Linked DNA regions of Homo sapiens. The protein of the gene in region 5 interacts with the protein of the main gene of each other region in a biochemical or structural test. Each region holds a gene or a part of one and is shown on either strand. Other genes may lie near its edges.

What was found.
Region 1: the proteins of DLG2 (region 5) and IGSF5 interact in a test that uses a peptide from one of them, tested with the Homo sapiens proteins (one large-scale study listed by IntAct).
Region 2: the proteins of DLG2 (region 5) and GJC1 interact in a test that uses a peptide from one of them, tested with the Homo sapiens proteins (one large-scale study listed by IntAct).
Region 3: the proteins of DLG2 (region 5) and SHKBP1 interact in a test that uses a peptide from one of them, tested with the Homo sapiens proteins (one large-scale study listed by IntAct).
Region 4: the proteins of DLG2 (region 5) and EVI5 interact in a test that uses a peptide from one of them, tested with the Homo sapiens proteins (one large-scale study listed by IntAct).
Region 6: the proteins of DLG2 (region 5) and DENND5A interact in a test that uses a peptide from one of them, tested with the Homo sapiens proteins (one large-scale study listed by IntAct).
Region 7: the proteins of DLG2 (region 5) and MAP4 interact in a test that uses a peptide from one of them, tested with the Homo sapiens proteins (one large-scale study listed by IntAct).

The regions. Positions count from the first base shown.
Region 1 is NC_000021.9:39,772,413-39,776,425, forward strand, and holds part of IGSF5 (immunoglobulin superfamily member 5), read left to right. Parts: intron 1-4,013. UniProt on the Homo sapiens protein: Provides, together with MAGI1, an adhesion machinery at tight junctions, which may regulate the permeability of kidney glomerulus and small intestinal epithelial cells. Mediates calcium-independent homophilic cell adhesion.
Region 2 is NC_000017.11:44,802,711-44,806,723, forward strand, and holds part of GJC1 (gap junction gamma-1 protein), read right to left. Parts: intron 3,128-4,013; 5' UTR 3,108-3,127; coding exon 1,917-3,107; 3' UTR 1-1,916. UniProt on the Homo sapiens protein: One gap junction consists of a cluster of closely packed pairs of transmembrane channels, the connexons, through which materials of low MW diffuse from one cell to a neighboring cell.
Region 3 is NC_000019.10:40,575,594-40,580,069, reverse strand, and holds the start of SHKBP1 (SH3KBP1-binding protein 1), read right to left. Parts: upstream 3,198-4,476; 5' UTR 3,171-3,197; coding exon 3,085-3,170; intron 2,840-3,084; coding exon 2,786-2,839; intron 2,675-2,785; coding exon 2,629-2,674; intron 2,514-2,628; coding exon 2,440-2,513; intron 1,948-2,439; exon of another isoform or gene 1,917-1,947; coding exon 1,858-1,916; intron 1,609-1,857; coding exon 1,528-1,608; intron 1-1,527.
Region 4 is NC_000001.11:92,774,826-92,778,838, forward strand, and holds part of EVI5 (ecotropic viral integration site 5 protein homolog), read right to left. Parts: intron 1-4,013. UniProt on the Homo sapiens protein: Functions as a regulator of cell cycle progression by stabilizing the FBXO5 protein and promoting cyclin-A accumulation during interphase. May play a role in cytokinesis.
Region 5 is NC_000011.10:83,471,569-83,475,581, forward strand, and holds part of DLG2 (disks large homolog 2), read right to left. Parts: intron 1,210-4,013; coding exon 1,159-1,209; intron 160-1,158; coding exon 58-159; intron 1-57. UniProt on the Homo sapiens protein: Required for perception of chronic pain through NMDA receptor signaling. Regulates surface expression of NMDA receptors in dorsal horn neurons of the spinal cord.
Region 6 is NC_000011.10:9,199,030-9,203,042, forward strand, and holds part of DENND5A (DENN domain-containing protein 5A), read right to left. Parts: intron 1-4,013.
Region 7 is NC_000003.12:48,009,823-48,013,835, forward strand, and holds part of MAP4 (microtubule-associated protein 4), read right to left. Parts: intron 3,696-4,013; exon of another isoform or gene 3,653-3,695; intron 1-3,652. UniProt on the Homo sapiens protein: Non-neuronal microtubule-associated protein. Promotes microtubule assembly.

The DNA.
Region 1 (4,013 bases), on a different chromosome or scaffold from region 5:
GAGGACCACAGGCTTGGTGGCTTAAACAACAGAAATGGATTTTCTCACAGTCCTGGAGGTTGGAAGTGTCATCAGGGCTGGTTCCTCCTGAGGGCTGGGAGGGAGCCTCTGTTCCTTACCTCTCCCCTTGTTCCTTGTGGTTGCTGGCCATCTTCCTTAGCTTGTAGAAACATCACCCTCCTCTCTGCCTTCATCTTTACTTGGTGTTGTCCCATTTTTTATGGTCTTTTCTGAGATAAACACTTTTGAACGGTACAGGTTATTTTTGCAAGATGCCTCTCAATTTGGGTCAGTTTGGATCAATTTGGATCAATTTGGATTTGTCTAAAATTTTTCATCATACTTTGACTTAGGTTACATATTTTTGGCAAGATATAGGTAATGTAATGTGGTCACAGGATGACAATTTTCATTGGCGTAAGTTTGACCGTTTGGTGAAGGTGGCATACCCTGAATTTATCCAACATAAAAGTACCTTTTTTGACTTTATAATTAATATGTAGCCAATAGATATTGTGGGAATATCCTGTTTACCCACAACCTTTCACCTAATACAATTTTTTAAAAAAACTTTTATTTTAGGTTCAGGGTTACACATACTGGTTTGTTGTATAGGCAAACTCATGTCACAGGGGATTGTTGTACAAATTATTTTATGACCTATGTACTAAGCCTAGTACCCATTAGTTATTTTTCCTGCTTCTCTCCCTCCTCCCACCCTCCACCCTCAGATAGACCCCAGTGTGTGTTGTTCCCCTCTATGTATCCTTGTGTTCTCATCATTCAGCTCCCACTTATAAGTGAGAACATGCGGTATTTGGTTTTCTGTTCCTACATTAGTTTGCTAAGGATAATGACCTCCAGCTCCATCCACGTCCTTGCAAAGGAGATGATTTTGTTCTTTTTTTACCTACTAACTTTTACATTCATTGATAAATCATTGCCTGAATCAATTACTTCTATGGTGATTGTAAAGAGTGATTTCCTGCTTCCATTATTCTTTCCATATCTCTTAATTGGCTTTCTTTTGTTAAACAAAAGACTTCCCTCCCCTTTCTTCCTTTTCTTTTTTTTTCCTCACAGTTTTAGTAGGGACTCAATTTTGTCCAATACATTCTAATCTATTCCTGTCATTTTTCGTTTTGACACCCAGATTGCTCCAGACTTGGTCAGTTGGTGTCCCTCCAAGCTGGTGCTGGTGTCCTTCCGACATCCCCCTATTAGTTTTTGAGCACCTGGACCAGTAAGGTGTTCCAGTCTCACTTTGCACTTCCCTGTCTCCACCTGGAATCAGTCATTTCTCCAGAGAACCAACCTTAAATATCATAAGTTAGTCTACTTAAATATGATAAAGTATGGTCCAAACTTTGAAAGAGAAGATTTTAAAAAAATCCATTAGCACCAAATGGAATAAAATGGACTGGTTAAAGCATATATCTTAACGAGGTAACGATGCAGCAGGAGCTCTGGCCTGATTGATGGTACCTTAGAGAGATAGATTTTAGAGACTGGCTTGCTTGCAAATGTTTTCTTTTGTAGTGGAAGGGAAAGAGAGCACTTAATTTCCCTTGGTCAGGTTAAATTCACTGAATTCTTCTTAGTCCAGAACTAGTGCCTTAACGATGGTAGCTGGAGGCATGGCTGCTGGAGAGGGAGGCTCAGTGGGTGCTTGCAATGAGTCTAGCTTTATTGGATTCATTTGGAACAGGGTAATTTGTTTCTAAATTATTCATCAAGATCCAGTGCAGCTGGTGGCTGGCTGCATGTTGTGTGTTTTAGGTAAGTTTTATTAGCTGAAGACCTCATTGCAGCCTTGGTTGGCGGAGCTGGTGACCAGACGAGGCTGTAAGGAGAACAGCCAGGTTTCCAGAGAGCCAAGTGTTAATGGGGCTGTGCCCATTCAGGCTTCTTCAGGAATCATATAAACATCCATTTTTCCACCCATTTCCTAAAAGTGCAAAGCATTTGTTTTCATTTCTGAAATGATCCCTGCAAGTCGTTGAAACAGGAATGACGTCAGCTTTGGAAGCTTATCCAGTCAGGGCAAGTCACAGGGTTGTATGAAGTACTTCCTGGTTTATAGTTCAAAAGGTTTCTTTAGAGAAAAACATACTGGGAGGGCTGACATTCATTTCAGATCTGTTTTTTAGAAATTGATTTTCTTAACTACAGAAATGATACAAACCTCGAGCATTGCAGACGTATCCAAAACTGGAGAGTGAGGCCGTCTCACCCTGTCTTGGGAGAAGCACTGTCAGAGCCATCTGCCCCTCGGGGTGGTTTTCTTTGTGCACTTATTTGTGTGTAGGTTGTGAAATGGTTAAAATGAAGTAATGTTTTTAGGACACATGAGCACCTTGTGGAATGTAGTGATTCCTGGTTATAACCTTACTGTTTTGAGAAATGGCAATTTTGGGTGCAGAGAAGAGTAGTAGAAGTGACAGTCCTAGGCCTTTGCCCTGGCACTGATGGTGCAACTTTGGGCAAGTCAGCAAACTTCAGGGCTCAGTTTTCTCACCTGTAAAGTGGGTAGGAGAAGAATAGAGAAGTCCTCTCTCCCGGCTGTGGATCAGAGACAGCAGAGGAGCCTTCTTTATAAATATGCTGAGGCTCAGCCTCCTCCTGGGGGTTTTGTTTCATTGGTTTTTGTGGAGCCTGGGAATTGCAATTGTAAAAAAAGTTCCCAAGTTACTCTAATGGGCAGCCAGGATTGGGGGCTACTGAACTGAAAAAAAAAATCTCTAAGGCCTAGCCTTCCCCTCCAGCCCGATCAAGTGCTATGTCTACACAGACTTGGACATTAGACAGCCTGGGTTCCAATCCCAGCTCACACAATCACTAGCCGTGTGTCTTCTGGGCAAATTACTTACCCTCTCTGAGCCTCAGTTTTAGAACGGTCCTTGCTCCAGAGCACATAGGACTGGAAAGGGAGTGATTGTCATTCACACTATTGATTCGGAGATCTCTTGTGTCGCCTCTAGTGGGCACAGGGATATGCTTTGCACATGATAGTGGTGACATTTGGTATTAATATGTACTTGGCACGTGTTGGTGGTGACATTTTATATTAATCCATTTGGTTTTAAGAAATTCTATACCTTTTTAAAACTCTATGCATTCCTTTGAGAGCATCTGGGAAATGCTATTTTCCTTTTCTTCACAGATGGGAAAAGGACAATCTCCAAGTGGAGGTTAAAGCACATGGTAAAGTCAGTAATGAGGCCCTAACAAGCACACAGTGGTGTGAAGGAGTGCAGGGAGAAAGGCAAGCAGTGTTGACCTTGGAGCTAATCTTCCTTAGTCACTATGTGTGGGTTACTCAGGTATAGTATACTCATCCTCTCCAGCAAACCTGCCATTCACCTGAGCCAGACACACCCACACCCTCCATAGGGTACAAGGCACAGACCAGCACCCCACTGTAGACTTTATGCAAATACATTTATGTCATACCTGGGCCATATTTTCCTCAGAAGGATTATTCTACATTGGAGACAACACATGGCAGGATGGAAAGATATGAGCCAGTGGCCCTGTGGCTTCCTGTTCTGGGCTCCCTGTGCCATTTACTTAGTCACTCTGTCCTGAGCGTCTTGTCTGCATGATGAAAAGATTGGATTATGGATGACATCATTCCAAGAGTCTGTGTTTTCTGTCCACTGTCAGATTTTTGGTTTGTCAATAATATATGGCTATGATCTATTTTTCAGTATACAGTAAATGCACTCTTTTTAAAAAAATTAGCTCCATACTAAACAAAAATATACATGCATGTGTGTATACCTATGTGTATAGATATAAAATATATATTATATATGATAAATTTTAAATGGTTATGAAAATAAGAAAGGTCTATCTTTGTAGCCCCAGCACTAAATCATGCCTCTTGCTGACTCGTACACTACACTTTGAGCTCCAGTGGATTAAAGGGAGACTTCAGCTTAAGTCTCACCCAGGCATAAAACTTGGAACATTTGCCTTCCAATGGAGCATGGTCACAACAAATAGGAAGT
Region 2 (4,013 bases), on a different chromosome or scaffold from region 5:
TAGGCTGGGCATGGTGGCTCACACCTATAATACTAACACTTTGAGAGGCTGAGGCGGGAGGATCACTTGAACCCAAAAGTTCGAGACCAGCCTGGGTAACATAGTGAGACCTCATCTCTACAAAAAAAATTTTTAAAACAGAATTAGCCGAGTATGGTGGCACATGCCTGTAGTCCCAGCTAATCAAGAGGCTGAGGTGGAATGATTGCTTGAGCCTGGGAGGCAGAGGCTGCAGTGAGCTGAGATCATGCTGCTGCACTCCAGCCTGGGTGAAAGAGGGAGACCCTGTCTCAAAAAAAAATTTCCTTAAGTTTCTTTTTTTTGGTGGGGGTAGGAATGCAGTAGAGAAACAAAAACACTGCACAAAGGGTGCAGTGTTCTACTATTCATCTAAATAATGGAGAACTGGCATTTTACAATTAAGATATAAAAAATATTCATACTTTCAGAATTTCCAAGTCAGAGGTGGCTTACAACAGCTTTCATTAGAAAAGGGTGAGACGCCCAAATAAAATGCTCCCTGGTGGAACAAAGTCCCCTTTAAACCTTTACCAAGCTCTTTCTCAGAAGCTCACAAAACTTAAGACAATGTGAACATGATGAGAAAGCAAAGCTCTCCAACATAAGGCTGAAAATGACAATAAAAGACTGCAATAAAAGACTAGTGGGATGAACATGAATGCTTGTCAGTGACAAACACATTATGCCTACAAAGAATAAATACTGCACTTCTCTTTAGGTCTATTTACAGACAGGACCCCATGACCTTTCAGGCATAAACCTCCACTGGCAGAAGTAAGAATTTAATCACAAAACTTCTATGGTAAATTATAAAAAATAAGAAATTTGGATTTAGGCCTTCTGCCATTTCCAATACAAGTAGCTTTGAGTATTCTTGGTTGACAAGGGAATGTTTGCATTTCTAATGTTAACAAAGAAAATATCCACCACTGGCTTCTTAACCAGACGGAAGCGGGCAGGTTTCTGGATAGAGGCTTAAGGCAAATCAAACAGGTTCACAACTAAGCAGCCTATTAGGGATTCCAGGCATGGCTTTGCTTTCTGAGGGACAGCTCCATATCATCTCTAGCCAGGTTTTCCACATTGCTACCAAACTGGGGACACGTTTCTGTATCAGGCTTTTGAAAGAACTTTAAGTTATATACATATACCATCAAAGCATATACTGGTGATGCTTGATATTTAAAGGAATCCTACAGTGAATCATTTATTTCCTTTGAAAATAAGGTTTTCAAAAATTGGCTACAACTCTGATCGCATGAATGAGATTCAAAGATTTCTCACATAAAAGAAAGATCTCAACCTCCTTCTACTGTGAACTTGCTTTCCAAGACTAAAAACTGGTATCTCCTCTTCAGTCTCCTTACACATCTGAAATCGTTCCTGCAATATGAGAGGCACTTTTATTAGGTGTAGCATCTATTAAAAACTCTAAAGCCAGGGTAGAATTTGCTGAACAAAGTAATAGCACTAGCCTAATAGGCATTATTTATAAGGACTTTTTCCCCTTTAATATAAAAGTATAACTACAGCAGTTCAATGTACAAATACAAAAAAAGTTCTCATACTAAAAAAAAAAAAGTACCATAATACTGTACATACAAAAACTGTTCAACAAGAATGATTTAAATATGTCTGTTCTTCTCCAGATCTGGAAGACACAAATGTAAAGTTCTGCAACTGTATTATTGCTAAGAACATGTGCCTGGGAACACTGTGTTTCCCTTTCTCTCCCTCAGCCCAGCCCCGCCTCCAGAGTCCCCTGAGCTTGGATCATGAGCCAACAGCATCCCTGAAGATAACCAGAGCCAAATGTTTACTCAATGGAAGTCATTATTCAGTGAGCTGCTGCTTACCATAAACTATGAAAAGCACAGGTTTTAAGCCCGCCAGGATTAAATCCAGACGGAGGTCTTCCCATCCCCTGATTTGCTACTGGCAGTGCTTTTGTTGGACCCAGCTTTGGACCCCACTTTGGCCTTCTTCTCCCGGGGACCATGAGGGTTGTTTTGGTGACTGTAGGCCTGAACTGCCAGATCCAAGCGTTCCTGAGCCATCCTGATCTCCCGCTGCAGAGCCTCCAGGTCAGCTGGGAGGTTCTCCTCATGGCTGCCATACTGCTGTTCCTGGGCTGTGTTGGCCTTGTTTTGCTTGTAGGCGATCTTAGCATTGGACAGTTCGGTGTACTGGATTTGATCTGGTTTGACAGCAATGTTATAGCCAGGGGGAGCAGATGGTGTATTCCAAGTGAAAGGATAATTATAAGCACCCGGATCCTCAAGTTCCCTCCTTTTACTGTTTAGTGAGTCTCGAATGGTCCCAAACCCTAAATGAAGCATCTCCCAAATGTTAAGCAAGAGGCAAAGGCCTGTAACACCATACATTATCAGAAGGAAGATGGTCTTTTCAGTGGGTCTAGAAATAAAGCAGTCTATCTTATGAGGACAAGGAAGTCTGCTGCACACATAAAACGGGTGGACTTGGAAGCCATACAGAAAATACTGCCCTATCAGAAAACCCACCTCAAACACGGTCCTTGCCAGCAACTGCAGCACATAGATTTTCATGAGCCCATCTTCCCGAATCCGTCGTCGGCCATCATGCTTAGGTTTGGGTTGGCTCTGCTCTTTATTTTCCTTATCACTTTCTAACTCCATCTCTGGATACATCATAGGATCCTCTTCGTTGTCCTCCTCCGTTTCTTCCAGAGCCCGGTGTTGTTTCCAGCGCATTGCATAGGGCTTGCTCCGAGCTGCCTTCTTGTCTGCTTCACCGTGCTCCATTTTGGCAATCTTGTGGATAGCATAGCCCAGGTACATCACAGAGGGAGTTGCCACCAGGATGATCTGGAACACCCAGAAGCGTACATGGGAGAGAGGTGCAAACGCATCATAACAGACATTCTCACAGCCCGGCTGTTCTGTGTTGCACACAAATTTGCTTTGCTCATCGTAATAGATGGATTCTCCTCCTACAGCTGTAAGGACGATCCGGAAGACAATCAGAACAGTGAGCCAGATCTTCCCCACAAATGTGGAATGGTTGTGAATCTCCTCTAGCAGGCGAGTCAGGAAGCTCCAACTCATGGTGATTGAATTGGTATGCCCTGATAAAAGTGGAAAAATACCAAAATAAAATCAACAAATATTAAATCTTAATTTAATTACTAATTATGATATCTCTAGGAACTACTGCTTTGAATACTTGAAATCTAACCTCAAGGTTCACAGTGGAACAAATGTTAGAATAAACAGCATCTCAGTTGGGTAGGGTGGCTCACGCCTGTAATCCCAGCACTTTGGGAGGCCAAGGCGGGCAGATTAGTTGAGGTCAGGAGTTAAAGACCAGCCTGGTCAACATGGTGAAACTCCGTCTCTACAAAAATACAAAAATTACCCGGGCACGGTGGTGTGCACCTGTAATCCCAGCAGCTCAGGAGGCTGAGACAGGAGAATTGCTTGAACAGAGCAAGACTCCATCTCAAAAAAAAAGAATAAACAGCATCTCACTCTCTACTATCTTCAAGAAGGTCAATTCACCTCAGTCAACACCTGTTGGCCCCACAAGGTCCCAGAAAGTATGGATTGCTTTCATATCTCCTCTGGTTTAAAAGGTAAACTTGTAGCTACTATTTACTGAGATATTTCTCAGACCTTGGTTCTTCTGTTTGTTTTTTTTTTTTTTTTTTGAGACAGTTTCCCTCTTTCGCTCAGGCTGCAGTGCAGTGGCGTGATCTTGGCTCACTGCAACCTCCGCCTCCCAGGTTCAAGTGATTCTTGTGCCTCAGCCTCCCGAGTATCTGGGATTACAGTCATGCACCATCATTTTTGTATTTTTAGTAGAGATGGGGTTTCACCATGTTGGCCAGGCTGGTCTCGAACTCCTGACCTCAGGTGATCCGCCTGCCTTGGCCTCTCAAAGTGCTGGGATTACAGGCGTGAACCACCATGCCTGGCCAGACCTAGGTTCTTTACACATACTATTATTTCATG
Region 3 (4,476 bases), on a different chromosome or scaffold from region 5:
TTACCTAATTTTCCGTTTTTTTTTTTTTTTTTTTTTTTGAGTTGGAGTTTCGCTCGTTGCACAGGCTGGAGTGCAATGGCACAATCTTGGCTCACTGCAACCTCTGCCTCCTGGGTTCAAGTGATTCTCCTGCCTCAGCCTCCCAAGTAGCTGAGATTACAAGCACCCACCACGACACATGGCTAATCTTTTATATTTTTGGCAGAGATAAGGTTTCACCATGTTGGCCAGGCTGGTCTCGAACTCCTGACCTCAGGTGATCCACCCACCTCAGCCTCCCAAAGTGCTGGGATTACAGGCATGAGCCAATGTGCCTGGCCCTAATTTTCACTTTTAATAAATGGAAGACTGCACCCTTGGCAAGCAATAGCATCTAGCCAGAGTTGTTTTTCGTTTTGTTTTGTTTTGAGACAGCATCTCGCTCTGTCACCCAGGCTGGGGTGTAATGAGTGATCATAGTTCACTGCAGCCTTGACCTCCTGGGCTCAAGCGATCCTCGCACTCCAGCATCCTAAGTAGCTGGGACCACAGGTGCATACCACCACACCTGGCTAATTTTTTTTTATTTTTAGTAGAGATGAGGTCTTGCTGTGTCACCTGGGCTGGTCTCAAACTCCAGGTCTCAAGTAATCCACCTGTCTCGGCCTCCAAACTGCTAGGATTACAGGTGTGAGCCACTGCTACAGGCCAGAGTTTAATAACACTGCTATGTTTGGGTTTTATTTTCATGTTTACTTTGTATTTATAATATAAAGCTTGCATTTAAAATGATTATTATTTTTTTAATTAGCCGGGCATGGTGGCGAGTGCTTGTAGTCTCAGCTACTCAGTGGCAGAGCTGAGGTGGAAGGATGGCTTGAATCTGAGAGGCAGAGGTTGCAGTGAGCCAAGATCGCACCACTGCACTCCAGCCTGGGTGACAAAGCCAGACCCTGTCTCATAAAATTAAATAAATAAATAAATAAATAAATGATTGTTTTTCGGAAAACAGGATAAAACTAAGTTGGAAAAGTACTACTACAGATCTTTATATCTGGCAACTTTCATGAAGGTAGCAGGTGCTGACTGCAGTTAGGGAAATAAAGCTGTAGATGAAATTTCCCTACTCTGTTACTTCTACCAATCAGAAAAGCCTAGTTCCAATAACCACTGGGGCATACCTTCCATGGCCAGTGGGCTGGCTATCATGGGCATTACTGTCAATAACTTCCTATTAATATTTCTCCCCTCCATACGAAGAATCCCAGGTCTTCCAAAGCCCCCCCTACAAAGAAACCAAACCCGGACTACAACTCCCATGGGGCTCCAGGACATCCTTCTGAGCCTCAAGAGTTAGCTGGCCCATTGTCTCATGGGAAATGCTGTGTCCAACTTCCTTTCCAAGCATCAGCCCAAGCATCTGATAGGGAACTACACCTCCCACTGTATCTCAGGACGCACAGCACAGGCACCCGAGAGCTGCAGCCTTATGGGAAATGTAGTCTTTGGCCCACCTCCGCGCCCCTCCATTCCATTGGGAGTGCCTACCTGGTGGCGGCAGGTAACCATTGAAGAGGACGTTTCCACAAGAAGATCGATCCAACTCCTCTCGAAGCTGCAGGCGACGAACTGCAACAGGAGGACTTAAAGGCTGGGACTTAGGGAGATGCTGAGGCCACCCCATTTCCCCCTCCCCATTTCTTTCTACACAGAGTACCAATACTCCTCCCAGTACGAATACAGACCCGGCCAGGGCCATAACCAGTCCTCCCACCTCTACCCCAGCCCTCTTTCAGGAGAGAAGGGGAAGAGGGGCAGGTAGCATCACAGAGTTGGTTTTCTATACAATGAGGATGATAGCTGGGGGCTCCCACTTACCCAGAGGAGTGAGCCCATAGAACTGGGCTTCATGGAGGAGGCTGGAACCGTGGACACCCCTGGGTAGTAGAATTGACTAGAGGTCAGGGTCTAGGTGTGGGGGTGAACAGAGAATGCTGAGAGGGTAATTTTCAAAACTGCACAGAGAATGTCAAGGGGTAGAAAGTTTTGATGGAATAAAGATGCTAAGGAGTGATGATATGGGTGGAGGAAATGTTGAGTGTGTGTGTGTGTGTGTGTGTGTGTGTGTGTGTGTGTGTGTGTAGGGAGAAATCGAAGGACATAAAATTTTAACATGATCAAGATTCTCATGAAGTTTTGCCTGTTTGCTTTTTTAGAGAAGGGGTCTCGCTATGTTGCCCAGGCTAGTCTCCAAATCCTGGGCTCAAGTGATCCTCCCACCTCGGCCTCCCAAAGTGTTGGGATTACAGGCGTGAGCAATCCCGGCGCGCCCGGCCTGTGATCAAGGTTCTGAATGAGAATTCTAATAGAATGGAGCTCACGTGGACATTCAGAGGAGGTGAAAGAACTCCTCAGGGACTGAAGACAGTGAGGGACTCCCTCCCCTTTTTCCATGCCAACCTGGGATCCAACTCTTTGGTGCGCAGGAAGTTGAGGATGGGGGCGAAGACTGTAGGGTCCCTGTCGATGAAGATCTGCGGGAAAGGGGGGCAGAGGATGGATGGGGTAAAAGGCAGGACTGAGTGGGGTCCTGCCCCTCTTCCTACCAACCCCTCCCCCCCATCCCATTTCAGTTCTTGTCCGACTCACTGCTCCGGTCTCATCTTTCAGCGTCGAGATGCGTCCGCTCAGAAGACTGCAGGGAAGGGACACCGAGCAGGCGTCACGGGCCGGGGGAGTGGATATTAGGTCTCCCACGCCCTCTCCATCCCTCCTACCCTCGCCCCAAACTCGCTCTCCCGATCACCTGGAGAAGAAGGAGTCTGGGATCCAGGTGAGAGTCTGGCGAGAGGTACTGAATCTGGGCGGGGAAGGTAAACGGACGCAAGAGATGAAGAGGAGCGGGTGAGGAATGCGTCCCCCTCCCGCAGGATCCAGGGTTCCCTCCCCTTCCCCCTCCCCCGGCGTTTTTCCAGAATCTCGCGCCTCCAAAGGGGGGGGGGGCGGAGCAACCCTTGATGGACAGGGATTCCCCCAGGAGAGGCGGATACTCCCACCCCGCTTCCCGCCCCCGAGGATGGGACCTCAGGAGTCTCCCACACTCACCTCTTGCCTCCCACATTCAGATGAATGACTTCCCCGGGAGGCCCCCGACTGGGGACCCCCTCGGCTGCAGTAGCCGCTGCTGCCATGGCCCCCGGGCGAGCCGGCTGGCCCGCACCCACTTCCGGGTGTGCACCCGGACCCCGCCTCCATAGGCTGCTCATTGGGCCAGAGACTCCAGGAGTCACTAGCGATTGGACAGAGCGCCTGCCCATCGCGGTTAACTTTTCCGCCTCCTTAAAGGGGTCCGCCTTTCCTGAACTTGACGGGGCGGACCCGGAGTCTCCTTTGGGGAAGTTTATTACGAAGCATAACGAAATATTCTCCATCCCTCTAGGTTCTCGTCAAGGGGCGTGTGTTTAGACCCCGAAATTAAGTCCACATAAAAGGGTACATCTGGATGTTCTCCGCAGCCACGGTACCCCCGTGCCCCTCTCCCCACCCCGCACCCACCCCTACAGCCACCACAGCCCTCCTTTCAATCCTCCCGGGCGCAGCCCAGAAAACCCAAACAAAGGACCATAGACCGTCAAAGCCAAAGGGTTTATTATAGGTACATACAGTGTGCGCCCGCCACACCGCCCCACACCCCCGGGCCCCAGCGGCTTCTCCAGGCGGCCATGGGGACTGCCCACAACCCAATCCCCCGACTCCCCAGGGAGGTGCTCCAGCCAGAAGCATGCAGGGGTGGGCTTCCCCTCGCCCCTCCCCTCATGAAGTGGCATTTACAACTGGAGGGGGGAGGAGAGAGGAAAACAGTTTTGAGCTTTGACGCCCCTCCCATTAAAAGCCTTCGCGGATGCGGGGCGGGGGAGGAGGAGATCGACGTTTTGCAAAAATAAACTAAGTCAGGAATTAACCGCATGGCTCTGAGGCGGCGGAGTGCAGGGGGCTAGGGCCCCTTCACTCCCCCCTCCCAGACAGAGATCAAGGCAGCATTGGAAGTGAGGTAAAGGCGGGGAGGGGGTGTCCCCTCCCTGCCCCCTAGCACCCTGGATGGTCCAGGGGACCTCACCAGCGCCCCCGTGCCCATCCCTAGGGCAGAGAGGGGGGCAGGAATTACTGCCCCCACCACCCCAGCTTCTTGGGGCAGGATCTGCAGATCGGGGCTGGGGGCTTGGCTCAACTGGCCCCCTGCCCACCCCCATCAAGCTCAGTTATTGCATAAAAATAAGGGACCCCCAGCACCTGGGGTGGGGGTGGTGAGTGGGAAGGGGCCGAGATATGGCTATAGGGGCAGCAATCTCCCCACCACTTCTTGGGGTGCAGGAGAAGTCCCCTCCTTTCCGGTGCCCACCATGTCACGCGTCCTCAGTGTTGGAACTAGGGGCTCCCGCCCCTGCGGAAGAAAAAGTGTCTTTGTGCCCACAGTGCGGAAAAGAGGGGAGACGAGAT
Region 4 (4,013 bases), on a different chromosome or scaffold from region 5:
GCAGAGAAAGCTCTCTTGAAGTAAACAGCTAAAAATGCAAAATAAACATACCAGGCTAGTAGCAATACCTAGTGAGAAATGAGATGACACTTTGCAAGCAAACTTAGGGGGTCACAATCAACAGGTTCTAACAACAATTAATCAATCTACATTCTTCCAATGAGGAAGGACTATCGTAACACCATGAGAGATAGTAAAAATTCCCCATGTCATCTGATTGATATCTTGAATTTTATATACAAACACAAAAGTAAAATACAGTCATGCACCGCATAAGAACATTTCAGTCAATGGATACCACATATAAGAGGGTAGTCCCTGCCTGAGCATAGTGGCTCACGCCTGTAATCCCAGCACTTTGGGAGACTGAGGCAGGTGGATCATTTGAGGTCAGGAGTTCAAGACCAACCTGGCCAACGTGGTGAAACTCCATCTCTAATAAAAATGTAGAAATTAGCCATGTGTAGTGGTGTGTGCCTATAATCCCAGCTACTGGGAGGCTCAGGCAGGAGAATAGTTTGAACCCAGGAGGCAGAAGTTGCAGTGAGCTGAGATAGCGCCACTGCACTCCAGCCTGCGAGACACAGCGAGACTGCATTTCAAAAAAAAAAAAAAAGAGGGTGGTCTCATGAGATTATAATATAGTACTTTTGGTGTATCTTTGCTGTTTAGATACACAAGTACCACTGTGTTACAACTGCCTACAGTATTCCATACAATAACATACTGTACAGGTTTGTAGCCTAGGAGCAAAAGGCTATACCATATAGCCTAGGTGTGTATAGTAGGCTCTATTATCTAGCTTTGTCTAAGTGTATTCTACGATGTTCATGCAACAGTGAAATTGTCTAACAACTCATTTCTCAGAACATATCCCCATTGTTAAGCAACACATGACTGACTGTTACTAACTTGTGGTAGAAAGAAAAGGCCAATGGGGATTTTGTGCAGTTGAGAAGCAGGCTTCTGTATTTTATAAAACTTGTTAAAAATTAATTTGAGGCCGGGCACGGTGGCTCACGCCTGTAATCCCAGCACTTTGGGAGGCCGAGGCAGGTGGATCACGAGGTCAGGAGATCAAGACCATCCTGGCTAACACGGTGAAACCCTGATTCTACTAAAAATATCAAAAATTAGCCAGGCGTGGTGGTGGGCGCCTGTAGTCCCAGCTACTTGGGAGGCTGAGGCAGGAGAATGGCGTGAACCCGGGAGGCGGAGGTTGCAGTGAGCCAAAATTGCGCCACTGCACTCCAGCCTGGGCGACAGAGCAAGACTCCATCTCAAAAAAAAAAAAAAAAAATTAATTTGAAGAGCAATATGTAGAGCTCGCAGGTTTTTATTTTTTGCCAAATATTAGAAGGAAAAAATCTATCTACTATCTAGAATCACAACTTCATAAGAAAAAGGGCATTTTAACACAGAAAAAGGATGGATATAATTTAAAGGTGAATAAATTGTATAAACATTGATAACATTTCTATTTCATCATGAACTTCATGGTAAAAATTCTAACTCAAAGAGCAACATTTGGGAAGCTACTGACTTAGTGTTTTAAAGAAAATAAAAATATAGAATGTCAAAGAATAACAAAGCTATTAGAGATATTTAAAATAGAGACTTTAATGGGTGGTTTTATCATTCACTTTATGTTAACTATACACTAAAATCTCCACAACTTTATTAATCTTTAGTAATAGCTCATAACTTTTTCTAGTCTAGAAGCTTTTTTCAAAATAAAAAATTCTGAGTACTACCTCTCCCCATGATTGGATTTAAGCATTACTAAATGAAATGATAACACCATCATGACTTTTTTTTTTTTTTTTGAGATGGAGTTTCACTCACTGTCACCCAAGCTGGAGTGCAGTGGTATGATCTCGACTCACTGCAGCCTCTGCCTCTCATGTTCAAGTGATTCTCCTGCCTCAGCCTACCAAGTAGCTGGGACTACAGGTGCACACCACCATAGCCAGCTAACTTTTTTTTTTTTTTTTTTGAGACAGAGTCTCGCTCGTCGCCCAGGCTGGAGTGCAGTGGCAAGATCTCAGCTCACTGCAAGCTCCGCCTCCCGGGTTCACGCCATTCTCCTGCCTCAGCCTCCCGAGTAGCTGGGACTACAGACGCCCGCCACCACGCCTGGCTAATTTTTTGTATTTTTAGTAGAGACGGGGTTTCACCATGTTAGCCAAGATGGTCTCAATCTCCTGACCTCGTGATCCACCCGCCTTGGCCTCCCAAAGTGCTGGGATTACAGGTGTGAACCACTGCACCCAGCCAATTTTTTGTATTTTTAGTAGAGATGGGGTTTCACTATGTTGGCCAGGCTGGTCTTAAACTCCTGACCTCAGGTGATCCAGCTGCCTCAGACTCCCAAAGTGCTGGGATTACAGGCGTGAGCCACCACCACGCCCGGCCCATTATGACTTTTTAATAAATTTTATTATATATTACAAATATGCAAGAACTATTATTCATGCAACATTTAATGTACACATGGATTTCCAGACCCCTTGCAGAGATCTACAGCCCAATCCATTTCTCCAGGCACTCATCTCCTCCTACCACAAGTTTCTCACATTTTAGGCTGGACAATTCCTTTAGAGAAGGTATCAAATAGCTCGTTAAACCGGATTATCTTCAAAATCACTTCCAATCTTGAGATTATAAGATCCTGGGACAACGAGTACTTCTAAAAAGAATTTTGAGACTCCTAAAGAAATGATATCTTGACCAATATTTAGGTCCTCTACCTCCTGACACTCTTTTCAGACAACTATGAAGAAATTTAAAAGGTATAACCCCATAAGGAGGAGACAACAATGGAGGACAGGTGGCAACAAGTTTCTGTATAATGGAAAGCAGACAGTGGACTTCCAAGGTGAGATGGCAGATTGAACACACACACATCTAATTTTGCTTCCTCCCAAAACGTTACTAAAACAAGGATAAAGAAAGTTGTGTTATTGTTGTTTGTTCTGTTTTTAGGACACAAGCCATTATGACAGGGAGAATGAGACAATAGCAACAAAATTTTGGAAGCTGGAAAGCAGCTGGATAACTGACCTAGTCAAAGATGCCAAAATCTTTTTTTTTTTTTTTTTGTGACGGAGTGTCACTCTGTCGCCAGGCTGGAGGTGCAGTGGCGCAATCTCAGCTCACTGCTACCTCCACCTCCTGGGTTCAAGCAATCCTCCTGCCTCAGCCTCCTGAGTAGCTGGGACTACAGGCGCACGCCACCACGCACAGCTAATTTTTGTATTTTTAGTAGAGACGGGGTTTCACCATGTTGGCCAGGATGGTCTCGATCTCTTGACCTCATGATCTGCCTGCCTCAGCCTCCCAAAGGGCTGGGATTACAGGGGTGAGCCACTGCACCCCGCCAAAGATGGCCAAATTCTAAGCCAGCAATGCTGACAACTAAGAACAAACCGGTTTATGCCATAGATTCCTCAAAAGGCTCAGGAACTGCCAGAACAAAGAGTGGAAGGGGGACTAAAAGAAAGGAGCAAGTGAATGCTGAACAGTTAGAATCCCAGATTTCTTCCAAGCTGCTGAGTGGCCCCACCCTCAATGTGGCAGGTGACAGATTTCTCTTCTCAAGAGGGTAAACCATACAAGGTGGAAGACATAGGCATCCTAACAGAGACAGATTGTGTGAGCCCAATATACTAAATGTTCTTTGGCTCCTTACCCAACCCTCTTTTCCTGAGTTCCCAGATACTGACAACCAGACCTCAACTCTCCAAGCAGAAAACTGGAAGATACTCTCTGGAAAATATGACTGGGACAAAAGGAAAGATAAATACAGTGGAGACAGCCTCAAACAATCCACCCAGATCAATTATTTCAATCTTGGCTACACACTGGAATTATCTTGGCAGCTTTAAAAAATACTGGTGCTAATCTTCGGAGATAGAAATCAGAATAGTGGTCACCTCTAGGCTGGGAGTGAGACAACAGAAGAAAGGGATATGAAGGAATTTTCTAGAATTTTTTGCCATGCTCTACATCTT
Region 5 (4,013 bases):
CATAAAGAAATCCAAGCTCTTTTTGTTTTTCCTAGAGGAAAGAAAAATGACACTTACGAGGCACACAGGAGCCAAATTTATCAGGGAATTCAGATATCAAGTCGTCATTGATCCGATCCTTCATGGGCCCCAGGATAATCACCGGCCGGGTGTAGTTTACTGCAGAATGGGAAAGGAAGATGTAGGTAAAGAGAAAGAGTTGGAAACAACTGCAAAACTGTCCTGCAAGGGTGATTCTTAATTGCCAGACAGTAAGAGATGCTAAGGGCATTACTTCACTGGATAAATTACTCATACAGCCTTGCATAGGGAAATTGATGTTTAACACTCAGGAGATTGGCAGTGCCTACTTTCTGGAATCTACTAGCAGGGAAAGGCAATTGCAGTATCTGTTGATGAAAAGAAACATTTGGAGGAGTTTTGCTTACTCTCTGGCTCTGCCTACATAATGTCAAAACAACTGAATTTAGTCAACTGAGTGGGAGAAAAAAGAATCCAAACCAGCTGTTTGGCTATTGTTTAGATATGACTATAAAAAGTAATTGTTAGTAGTAATAACATCTTATGTTTTCATGATTTCTTTTCCCCAGATCAAAATACTCTCTATACTTTGCTACAGTTTCTAGATTTCCTTGTATCTGGGATTAGAAGGAACCTGAGAGTTCATTGGGTACAAGTCCCCATCTGATGCTTGAATTCTCTCTGCAGTATCCTTGTCAGTAGCAATTAGCCTCTGTATAAATGCCTCCAGGAAAAAGCAGCAGCTTACAGATAGCCTACATCTTAGGCAGATCTGCTAGAAAGTCATTCTCAATACTGAGCTGACATCAGTCTCTCAGGAGAATTTATTCACCAGTCTCGTAGCTAGTGCTCTTTAGGTAATTTGAATGTGTTCCTTCCCATTGAGGACCACTCATCTGGAGGGCTGCATCCTTCTCTTAGGTGCTATTAGTGCCCATACTCAGCAGGAAGTTGTCTGTTTGGTGATAGGGTCAAAGAGAGAGAAAGTGAGAGACAGCGTAAGAGTAAGGTACGGTCTCAAGACAACAGAGCATTAAGCCGAGTTTATTCTCCTTAGTCCTTCACTCTTTCCCTCCTTCAATGATGTCACCTCTTATGGCCCAGAAATTAGGAATGAAAGCGTGCTGGGAAACTTACTTTCCTGCCTTGTAACAGGCTCATAGGAAAGAATGAGGTCTTCTTGTCCTCCTGAGAAGAGAAGGAAAGAAAACCACAGTGAACTAACAGTCATATATTACAGAGACAAGCCCTGCTCTGAAACACAGGAAACAGACACAGCTCAGAGTTAATTCTCCTTGCTCTTTCTCCTTGAACCATTCAAAAATAACTTCATCCTCATAAAACTCTTTAGCACCATTTTAGTATCAGATTTTCACAGTCATAACTCTAAGTAATAACTGGTTGCTAGCTATTTGCTGCAGGGCAATGACCTGTGAGACTTCTTTCTGTCTGGCATTGAGAATGGAATGCCATGGCCTCTACACCAAGCATTACTACTTAAAAGGAAGCCATTTAGTTCAAGGAAAGGGTCCAATTCAATAGATGGCTGCTACATAATCAGAATTGCTGTACCTTTTATTTCATCTTCTATTTTATTTCCCCAAGAAGCACACTGTTCAAAAGCAAGTATATGCTTATTTCATTTATGATATAAAAACTTCATCAGGACACTCAGGGTTTTACTCTAATATTAATTCGTCAGGAAAATGCTGTGGGTCAATTAATGAAGATCAAAAATTGAGGTGTGTCCTACATCATTGGTTATAATTGCTGCTAAACTGTGCGTTGAAACTTCAGATAGAGAACTAAGGAAGACACAGTAGTAAAATGTCAGCCCCTCCAATGTCATCTGCTACAAGCCTTCTGACTCAGGGTGGACCTCAAGTCAACAAATAACCATAGAAAGTAAATTGGTTTTTGCCATTTATTTTTTCAATCATCTATTTTATATAATTGATGAATTAATTGGTCAGAGGATTAGCTCAATTTCACCTGCAAACCCGGAAGTGTCTGCATTTTTTTTTGCATTGACTAACCTTTGGAACAGCAATAGGTTAGGGCTGTTGAAAAGAACTTTCTGTCTACTAGAAGAAATAGTGGAGCAGAAGTGGAATATGAGGTAACTTCTGAAACCAAAGGGCAATTCACCTTTGCTGTATATCCTCACCACCCACCCCTGAAGCACATTCATAGTCTATCAATGCCAGGTTTTCCTCCTTCAACAGCCACAGCACCACAGAAAGAGAGGTAATTTCATAAGAAGAGTTAATATGATCGACTGTTTTGATAATGAGACTGATTTGGGGAAATTGAGCAATATGTGGGTATAGCTGCGAAGTTGGATGACTTCCTTGGAGGCTGGGTAGCTGGAATGGGATGGGGATAGGAGTGTCTTACTTTTTCAAGTGTGAGAAATGGCCTCAGGCTGAAGTCATATCTTATCTCAGTCCCAAGGAGGGCCTGGGCTCAGAATGGCGCCACCATGCCAAGCTACTTCTTAAGGGTACAGAGAGTGGACCTTGATGCTCCTCCTAAGTGGTATGTACCCATGGCCACCCCAGAAGTGTTCAGGGGACTCTGCCACATTGGTCAGGGGTTTGGTCAGTGAGGAGTCAGATTCACTATTTCTTGTACTCAGGAAAAGAATGATTCCCTTTGAATAAACTACTGAAATGTACAGAGCCTAGGCCAAAAAACATGAAGGTGATTGATTACTAACCCCCAGTTATCTAAAGCCTGAGCGATGTAGAGGGTATACGCATTCAAGGTTTTAGTTTAGTATTACTTCATCAGGAAAATGCTGTGGGTCAATTAAAGAAGTGTAAAAATTCTTGGGGAGAAAGTATAGTTTTAATGATAGAAGCATCGTAGACTAACATTGCAATTTTAGACTATAACTTTACAGGGGAAATCTTCAACAATTAATGTGCAAGGGAAGAATTCTGACCATGGGATAACAAAAGCTTTAAATGTCAGGTAACTCTTGGACCTCCTTATTAGGCTGGGAGTTTCATAAAGGCGAGAACTGAGTTTTATTCATCACCATGTCTCCAGTGCCCCATTGAGTGCTTAACATAAAGAAAGATGTCAACAAATTTGCATTCTGATTTCAGTCATGGGAAACAGGATGAGTGATGAGGCCAACGGTAGGTTCTATTTTGTGTTTCTGTCAATATGGTCATTTAACTTTGGAAAGCATCGTTTTCTCTAAATAAATAGAGCACATCAAGTTCCCATAAAAATCTCTTCCCAATGGCTTTGCAAATCATTCTGATGGAACGTTCTAAAGGCAAATCTTTAATAAGATATTTGATGTCAGTGTGTATGATTGCGATTCAGACAACTAGGGCAAAGCATAGCTTTGATTAATTTTGTTCAAGAGTTCTCTATCTCTGTCTATCCATCACTTCTTGGTTTACTTTTCTATGAAAGGCACTGGTTCTGGTTCTGGTTCAGAGCAGTAGTGTTGGTAGACAGCAATGGCAGCATCCCTTATGTCCGGGCCACCCCAATTCTCAAGACCTTGTGGCAATCAGGTACTGTGTAATACCCAGGAAGCCTGTGGGGAAACCCGTGGAGGTGGGCATGACATAATTGCTGTGAATTCAGCATCTTAAACTAATTTTTACTTCCATGTCCAAGAATGAAAAGCCCTATGGGTAATGAGGAAGAGACAAAGGGAAAGAGAAAAAGCCACTGTGATGAAGGAGAGAAAATTCATGTCTTTGTGGCACTTTGCGGGCCTTGAGGGGCTTTCATACCCACTGGCTTTTATGTCTCACAGGCATTGCTTGAGGTAGGTACTCTGATGATCCCCATTTTACAGATGAAGAAGCTGAGGCTCAGAGATGTTAATGAGCCCTGATTCCTCAGCTAGTAAGTAGTGGAGTCAAGATTTAATACTGCACCTTTTTCAACTCTTGTGGAGTATATTGCACTGTCTTGAAACAGTGAGAGAAGCAGAATTCTCTGTGGGGCAGGGTGGGTGGGTG
Region 6 (4,013 bases), about 74 Mb from region 5:
TTAGGCAACAAGAGCAAACTCCGTCTCAAAAATAATAATAAATAATAAATAGTTTAACTATAAAATTAATTGTACATATCATTTTTAGGATTCTGTGACTTAACTGACTTTTTTGGTTTCCAATCAACTACTCTATCAGGCCACTTCAGATAAAGAGCTTCTGTTCTGCATATAATTTTTAAATAAGGCCAGGTGCAGTGGCTCATGCCTGTAATCCCAGCACTTTGGGAGGCCAAGGAAGGTGGATTGCTTAAGCCCAGAGTTCAAGATCAGCCTGGGCAACATGGCAAAACCTCATCTCTACAAAAAATACAGAAACTAGCCAGACTCGGCAGTACATGCCTGTAGTCCCAGCTACCCAGGAGGCTGAGGTGGGAGGATCATCTGAGTCTGGGGAGGTCAAGGCTGCAGTGAGTCATGATTGTGCCACTGCACTCTAGCATAGGTGACAGAATGAGACCCTGTCTCAAAAAAAGTAACAATAATTTTTTAACAACCAATTAAAAATTATGCTATTAAAAAAACACTAATTCTATATGGACTAAAGAATAAATATTATCTAAAAGTAAATAAAATGACCTATACCAAAAAGAAAACACTGCTTAAAACTGCCAATTCAGCATTCCAAAGGGTTACACTTTCAGAATCTTACAATTCAGCCTGCATTCCTTTTCCCTATGTAACACCTCTTTTCTATTCAGAGGGCAGGACATGCAGCAGGCAAAATCAACTGCAGTGGTGATAGCTTGTTTTTGGCCAGAGTGATTTTTATCCATACAAGGAAGATGTCCTTGGATCATTAATATAACTACTTCAAGAAAACCAACCTAAATTGTTTAAAGCACTCTATTAACAACAAAAAGCATAATTTACATCCAATGAAAAGTAATCCACTCCACTGTGGCCTCAGCCAGGCTCAGCAATATCCAGGAATTTCTGAAAAAAGCTTTCTCTTGTCCATGCTGAGCCTGACTTTAGGTCCTAAGTTAAATTCAATTCTACATACTAACCATCTCAATTACATTCAAACCTCCTAAAATTCTTATTATGGATACAGTAACCCATATTCTAGGAAATACAAAAGAAACTCAGATGGAAGAATGTTATTTTTCCATTATGTTCATCATATTTGTTTCAATCATCCTTTCCTTGCCTCTAAACACCCCCAATGCCTAAAAGCCTACTGTATCTTCTAACACTCTATATAGTTTGGTTTCCTCCTCTCTGTTCTGTTCTAAACCAGAGAAGTTCCTCCCTATTCAACTAATTCTCCATTTCAAAGTATTTTTATGAAGCTCCAGCCAAGAAATAGCTAGGAAAGCAATATGATTTGTCCAAGTCTATATTTCACCCAGAGAGAGGAGGCTCTAACTTCGTATCTTAAACTAGAAGTTGCAAAGTGAAGCCTCAGGAACTACATTCAGCCAGCAGATGCTTTTTGTTTGGCCTGCAGTGTTTAAAAAGAACATTATTGCCAATATTTAAAAATCAGAGATTTCATGTAAAAAATCTGGGTCCTCATCAATTATTGGAATATTTAGTAACATCAGGCCAGTATACCCACAAGGAATTAACTGGAGCTAATTAGCGGCTATCCACTTTATATGAGGTATGTGCTCTTCAGTTCAACATAGTTTCCATTACTTCACCTTCAAACTATATCCAGAACCCAACCATTCCACACCACTTCACTGTTATCTCCTTAGTTCTAACTGACATCACCTCTCACCTGGATTATTACAAATTACCTCTTAACGGAACTCTTTGCTTTCTTCCATTCTCCCTTTGGGGATATACTCTTAATATAATGGCCAGAGTGATCCTGTTAAAAGCCTAAGTTATTCATTTATTTAACAACATTTATTGAGCACCCTTATATACCAGCCACAGTTTTAGTGCTTGGAATCCATCAATGAGCAAAAAGCAAAAGCCCTGCCATTGTGGAGGTCCATTCCTTTGCCCATGGACCAAATCTGGGAAATTTGAGCATCAAAATAAATAATTATAGTGAATTATAACCTGAGTAAAATAAAAATCTATGAATCCATACAATAATAAACAAAGGAGAAAGAAACACTCTTCATTATGGTATAATGCCAATTAATAAATAAAGATAAAGTTTGAAAACCACTATTCTGCCAGCCTGGGCAATAAAGCAAGAACCTAGCTCTACAAAAAAAAAAAATTTTTTTTTAATTAGCCAGGCATGGTGGTGGGCACCTGTAGTCCCAGCTACTCAGGCGGCTGAGATGGGAAGATCACTTGAGTCCAGGATATCAAGACTGCAGTGAGCCATTATTGTGCCACTACACTCTAGCCTGGGTGATAGAATAAGACTCTATTTCTTTAAAAAAAAAAAAAAATTTTAAGGCTGGGCACAGTGGCGCCTGTAATCCCAGCACTTTGGGAAACCAGGCAGGAGGTTCAGCCCAGGAGTTTGAGACCAGCCTGGGCAATGTAGCAAGACCCCATGTCTACAAAAAATAAAAAATTAGCCAAGCATGGTGGTGCATGCCTGTAGTTCCAGCTACACGGGAAGCTGAGGTGGGAGGATCACTTGAGCATGGGAGGACGAGGCTGCAGTGAGCCATGAAGGCACCACTTAACTCCAACCTGGGCAGCAGAGTGAGACCCTGTCTCAAAAGGAAAAAGAAAAGAAAAAGAAAATCACCTTTTTGCTACTATTCTTGAAATAACTGATTCAGAATAGAATCATCAATAAATGCTAAACTATTAGGCATCCATAAACTGCAAATATAATTCAAAAAATAAAAACTAAAAAAAAAATGGTTAGGCAAAACTTTAAAGAAGAACAGAATAATTAGTTTCAAAGTATCTCCCCATGACTTACATGTTAATTACCAAGGGAAAAATTATAACTTTCCAGTTAAGAAACCACAGACACCATCTTAACCAAGTAAGCAGATTAGTATCACCAAAAATGAGACAAAATGACATCATATGCCTGCCTCCTGTAATCATGAAAACTGACAGTATGTGCCTCCTAATATAATGCACTGAGAGAAGCACATCACTTCTATGGTATTTTAGGCAAAAATTTATAATCTGAATCTAATCATGAAAACATCAGACAAAACCAAATTAAGGGACAGTCTATAAAATAACTTGCTTGTACTCTTCAAAAATGTCTATGTCATGAAAGACAAAAGCTGAGAAACTCACAACTAAAAGCAATGCATGATATGGCACTAGATCCTGAATAAGGAATTTTTTTAAATTATCATAACAGACATTATCGGGTACCAGAGAAACTTTAATATAGTATTGTCTCAATGTTAGGTTTTCCAAATTTGATCAATGATAGTTATTTAAGAGAATGTTTTTATTCTTAGGAAATAAACACATGAGAATTTAGGAGTCACAATAACTCTCAATGGTTCAGTTATGTTCACACACAGAGATCATAATAAAGCAAATGTGGCAAAATGTTAACAATTGGTGAATTTGGGATAGGTTATACAAGAGTCCTTTGAATACCCCTCGCGAATCTTCCGTAGCTAGAAATTATTTTAAAATAAAAAGTAAAAAAAATTGAAAACTCTGATGGCTATCTAAGAGCCATTTAAGAGTAAAAGCCAAAGTCCTTACAATGGCCTACAAGATTCTATACCATCTGGCCTCCAGTTAAGTCTCTAACACCATCTCCTACTATACTCCCGCTCATTCACTCCATTCCATCCACCCAGCTTCTGGTTCTTGAATACACGAAGCACATTCTTGTCTTAGACCGTTTATACTTCCTGTGCCCTTTGCCTGGAATACTTTTCCTACAGATATTAACAGGTCACTCAGGGATGCCTACCTAACCACCCTATTACAAACTGGAACTTCTCTTCCCCAAATACTATCCCTTTCCCTGTTTTATTTTTCTTTATAACCCTTATTAAGTACCTTACAAACTACATATTTTATATATTTATTTAATCACCTCTCTTCTCCCACTAAAATTTAAGTTCCACTATAGCAACAATTTTTCTGTCTTGTCCACCACT
Region 7 (4,013 bases), on a different chromosome or scaffold from region 5:
TAGAGGTCTTAATTCCAGAGGGAAGAATGCTGCCACCAGGAGACACAACAATGATTCCATTAAACTGGAAGTTAAGATTGTCACCTGGACACTTTGGGCTCCTCCTCCCTTTAAGTCAACAGGCTCAGAGGGGGAGTTACAGTGTTGGCTAAGGTGACTGACCCAGACTATCAAGATGAAATCAGTCTACAACTTCACAACGGAAGTAAGGAAGAGTATGCATGGAATACATGAGACCCATTAGGGCATCTCTTCGTATTACCATGCCCTGTGATTACTGTCAATGCAAAACCACAACAGCCAAATCCAGGCAGGACTACAAATGATCCGGACCATTCAGGAATGAAGGTTTGGATCACTCCACCAGGAAAAAAACCCATGACCTGCTGAGGTATTTGGGGAAGGCAAAGTTAATACAGAATGGGTAGAAGAAGGTAGTCATCAATACCAGCTATGACCACGTGACCAGCTGCAGAAATGAGGACTGTAACTGCCATGAGTATTTCCTCCTTCATTTGTTAAAAACATGTTTGTGTATGTATACACATGTACTAATATCTTCACTTTATATTTCCTTTTCCTTTATCATGTGACATAAGATTTATTGATTTCATAACAGCATTTAAGTATTATTAACTTTATGTAATAGTATTTGGGTTGGGGATTGGTGTGTTTCTGGTTGTATGAAGGATAGTTTTATTACATTAGGTGTAATTATGACCTTATTATTGTCTTTATTTTAAGATTACATACGATCTCAGATGTATATGGGTTCAAGTTGACAAGGAGTGGACTTGTAATGTTAATACTGTCAACTTGATTGGACTGAAGGATGCAATATTGATCCTGGGTGTATCTGTGAGGGTGTTGCCAAAGGAGATTAACATTTGAGTCAGTGGGCTGGGGAAGGCAGACCCACCCTTAACTGGGTGGGCACCATCTAATCAGCCACCAGCGAATATAGAGCAGGAAGAAAAACATGAAGAGATGGGCCTAGCCTCCCAGCCTATATCTTTCTCCCGTGCTGGATGCTTCCTGCCCTCGAACATCGGACTCCAAGTTCTTCATTTTGGGGACTCGGATTGGCTCTCCTTGCTTCTCAGCTTGCAGACAGCCTACTGTGGGACCTTGTGATCACGTAAATCAATACTTAATAAACTCTCCTTTGGAGATATATCCTATTAGTTCTGTCCCTCTAAGAGAATCCTGACTAAAACAAGTAGTGTGGGGCTCGTGACAAAAACTGATAGCTTTGCTGCCAAAGGGGCTCCTGTGGCATGACAGAGCTGTTGTCCACAGCAAATGCCATCTCACACTACTGGAATTATAAATTCCACTATTTGAATAACCACTGCCGAATTCAGGATTTAGCAGCTTTTCTGAAGGAACCATAAATAGGAATTCAATGGTTCCTATAGTAGGAACTGGACTTGGTAATCCCAGCCTGTAATCTCCCAGCACTTTGGGAGGCCAAGGCGGGTGGATCACTTGAAGCCAGGAGATTGAGACCAGCCTGGCCAACACAGTAAAACCCTATCTCTACTAAAAATACAAAAACAGAATAACTAGCTGGGCACTGATTTTTATTATTTAGATGGTATGCACCTGTAATCCCAGCTACTCAGGAGGCTGAGGCAGGAAAATTGCTTGAACCCAGGAGGTGGAGGCTGCAGTGAGCCAAGATCACGCCACTGCACTCCAGCCTACGTAACAGAGCAAGACTCCGTCTCAAAAAAAAAAAAAAAAGTTCCTATAGTAGTAGTGGCACACCTGTGACCCATTTACAACAGACGAATGTGGGTGGGAAGCCCTATTCTATGCTCGTCCAGCCTACTTTACATATAAAGTATTATTGTAACTCCAGATCATGACAGGGAAAATGCTGAGAAATGAGTTCATTAAAGAGCTTTTAAAAGCCTAACAGATTATAATGTCAAAGGGTTCCATGAAAAGCAACTATTCAGTTGCTTTTACTATTCGGTTATGCCATTTCCCTATTCTATCTCTGACAACTATTATTAGTAGTTATCCTTTGGGAGCTGTTATGAACCAAAAACTAAAAAGGACGTCTGTAACTAGTTTTGATAGAGGCAAGAGGCAAACAAATGTCTAGGCAGACAGGGGCGGGTCCTCAGTGAAACCCGAACTTTAATCCGGAAACTGTCCTGGGTAAATCCTGAGATCGGATTAAGAACCTGCCTTCCCGTTTGGCATGATTGATCCCCATCCTTCACCTATTTAACCTGTACCTACCCTTTCCTAATTGGTTTTCTACACTGTCCTGCCCACCTTGGAGTGGTGTCTTCGCTTTGACCTTTTTTGCATACTCACAAACCAATGACCACACACTCCCATTCTGAACCAATAAAGAGCCCCAGGCTCAGCCATATTACGGAACTTTCCTGTCTTCAGGTAGTAGAACCACCTACCATGTTCTCTCTTTTTGCTAAGAGCTTTCCTTTCGATTAATAGATTCTACTCCACTCACTCTTTGATGTCCACGTGCCTAATTCTTCCGCTCCTGAGATAAGAACCTGGACCTAGTTGAGCTAAGGAGCAAAAATCCTGCATCAGTTTCATGGTCAAAGAGAACTTAAAAGGACATCTGTGCCATCCTTAACAACATACCATAAAAATCCAAAATTTAATTTTCCCCAGAAATACATAATGACATAAGATGCAATCTACTCAAATCTTTTCCTCATTTAAGGCACAGGGTAAAAATACAGTCAAAAACACCAATACATTTTAAATATCATTTATCAGAATGCAGATTATCAAAGGGCAGCTTTTATCCATTGTAATCTTTCCCCTATCCAACCCTCAGCACCCCCACCCCGCCCCCAGCCACACACTCTCAGATGACTTCCTGGGCTGCATGTGGTTCATGGAATATGAACAGTAGCTGAAATTCAGCCTAAGAGGGTAAAACTGATAGAAAATTATACAATTGGAAAGTGGGAAGGTCATGAAGCTATGAGCACATCTAGCTAGCCACTTAGCATCTGTATTTCATCAACAGTTAAGCTATTCTTTACTTGTCACCACATAAATAGAATATGATTTTAAAATACACACACACACCCCCTTATGGAAAATGATCCTAGAAAGGTAATGCTAGTGTCATCTTTCAAGTTAAAGTACTGTTGTTTTTTTTTTCCCAGAAATCCCCAGTTTTCAATAAATTAAAGCGATTATCCAATTTTATAGTTATTTTATTCTGAAACATGTATAAGTACAATACACTCTTTAAATGCTCTATAGATGTTAAACTGGTTCAAGTATTCCAAAATTAATTTTAATAAATTCATGTATGAATTTCATCTCACACAGAATCACTTGAAGTTACTTACTATTCGGTTATGCCTTAAATGCTTAGTTACATATTTTATGGATAAAAGGATATGACACTATTATTTTCAAATCTGGATGTTCAGGAGGATCAAAAAATGAACCCTTGTGAATGAGAAGCATTTACTCTAAAAAAAAAACCTCTCACTGACCAATTGACCATTTATACTATTCCTCTTCTATCCATACAGATAATAAAGTTAACTTTAAATAGATTTGTGAGTAAGAGTCAAGAGAATTTGAAAGCTGGGTACAGAAGTCTGTATGCTTTACTGAAGCACCAGTTTAATCTGACACTCACTGTGGCCTTGAATGAGTCACCTTTCAGGGCTGAGTTCTCTAATCTGTAAAATGAGAGTGTTATGTTAAATGTTTACTGAGGTTGATTATTCTATCAGCTACTTGTAATTCAGCTGCATCATTTCAGTTAGCTATAAATAAACCCCCTAAGACCCTCAGTGTGAATATGAACAACTATCATTTCATATTATTTCATATATCAAGTATTCTCATTTATAATTGGGTTGAGGTTTATTAAAAAAAAAAAAAAAAGCTTTTTGGCAAAGGGAGGGACTGAAAACAAATTCACCACTGCATGGTGCCCTGCTTGAGCCAATCTGACTGGAGCTTAAGAAACTCCACCCAGTTCTGGCTAACATCAA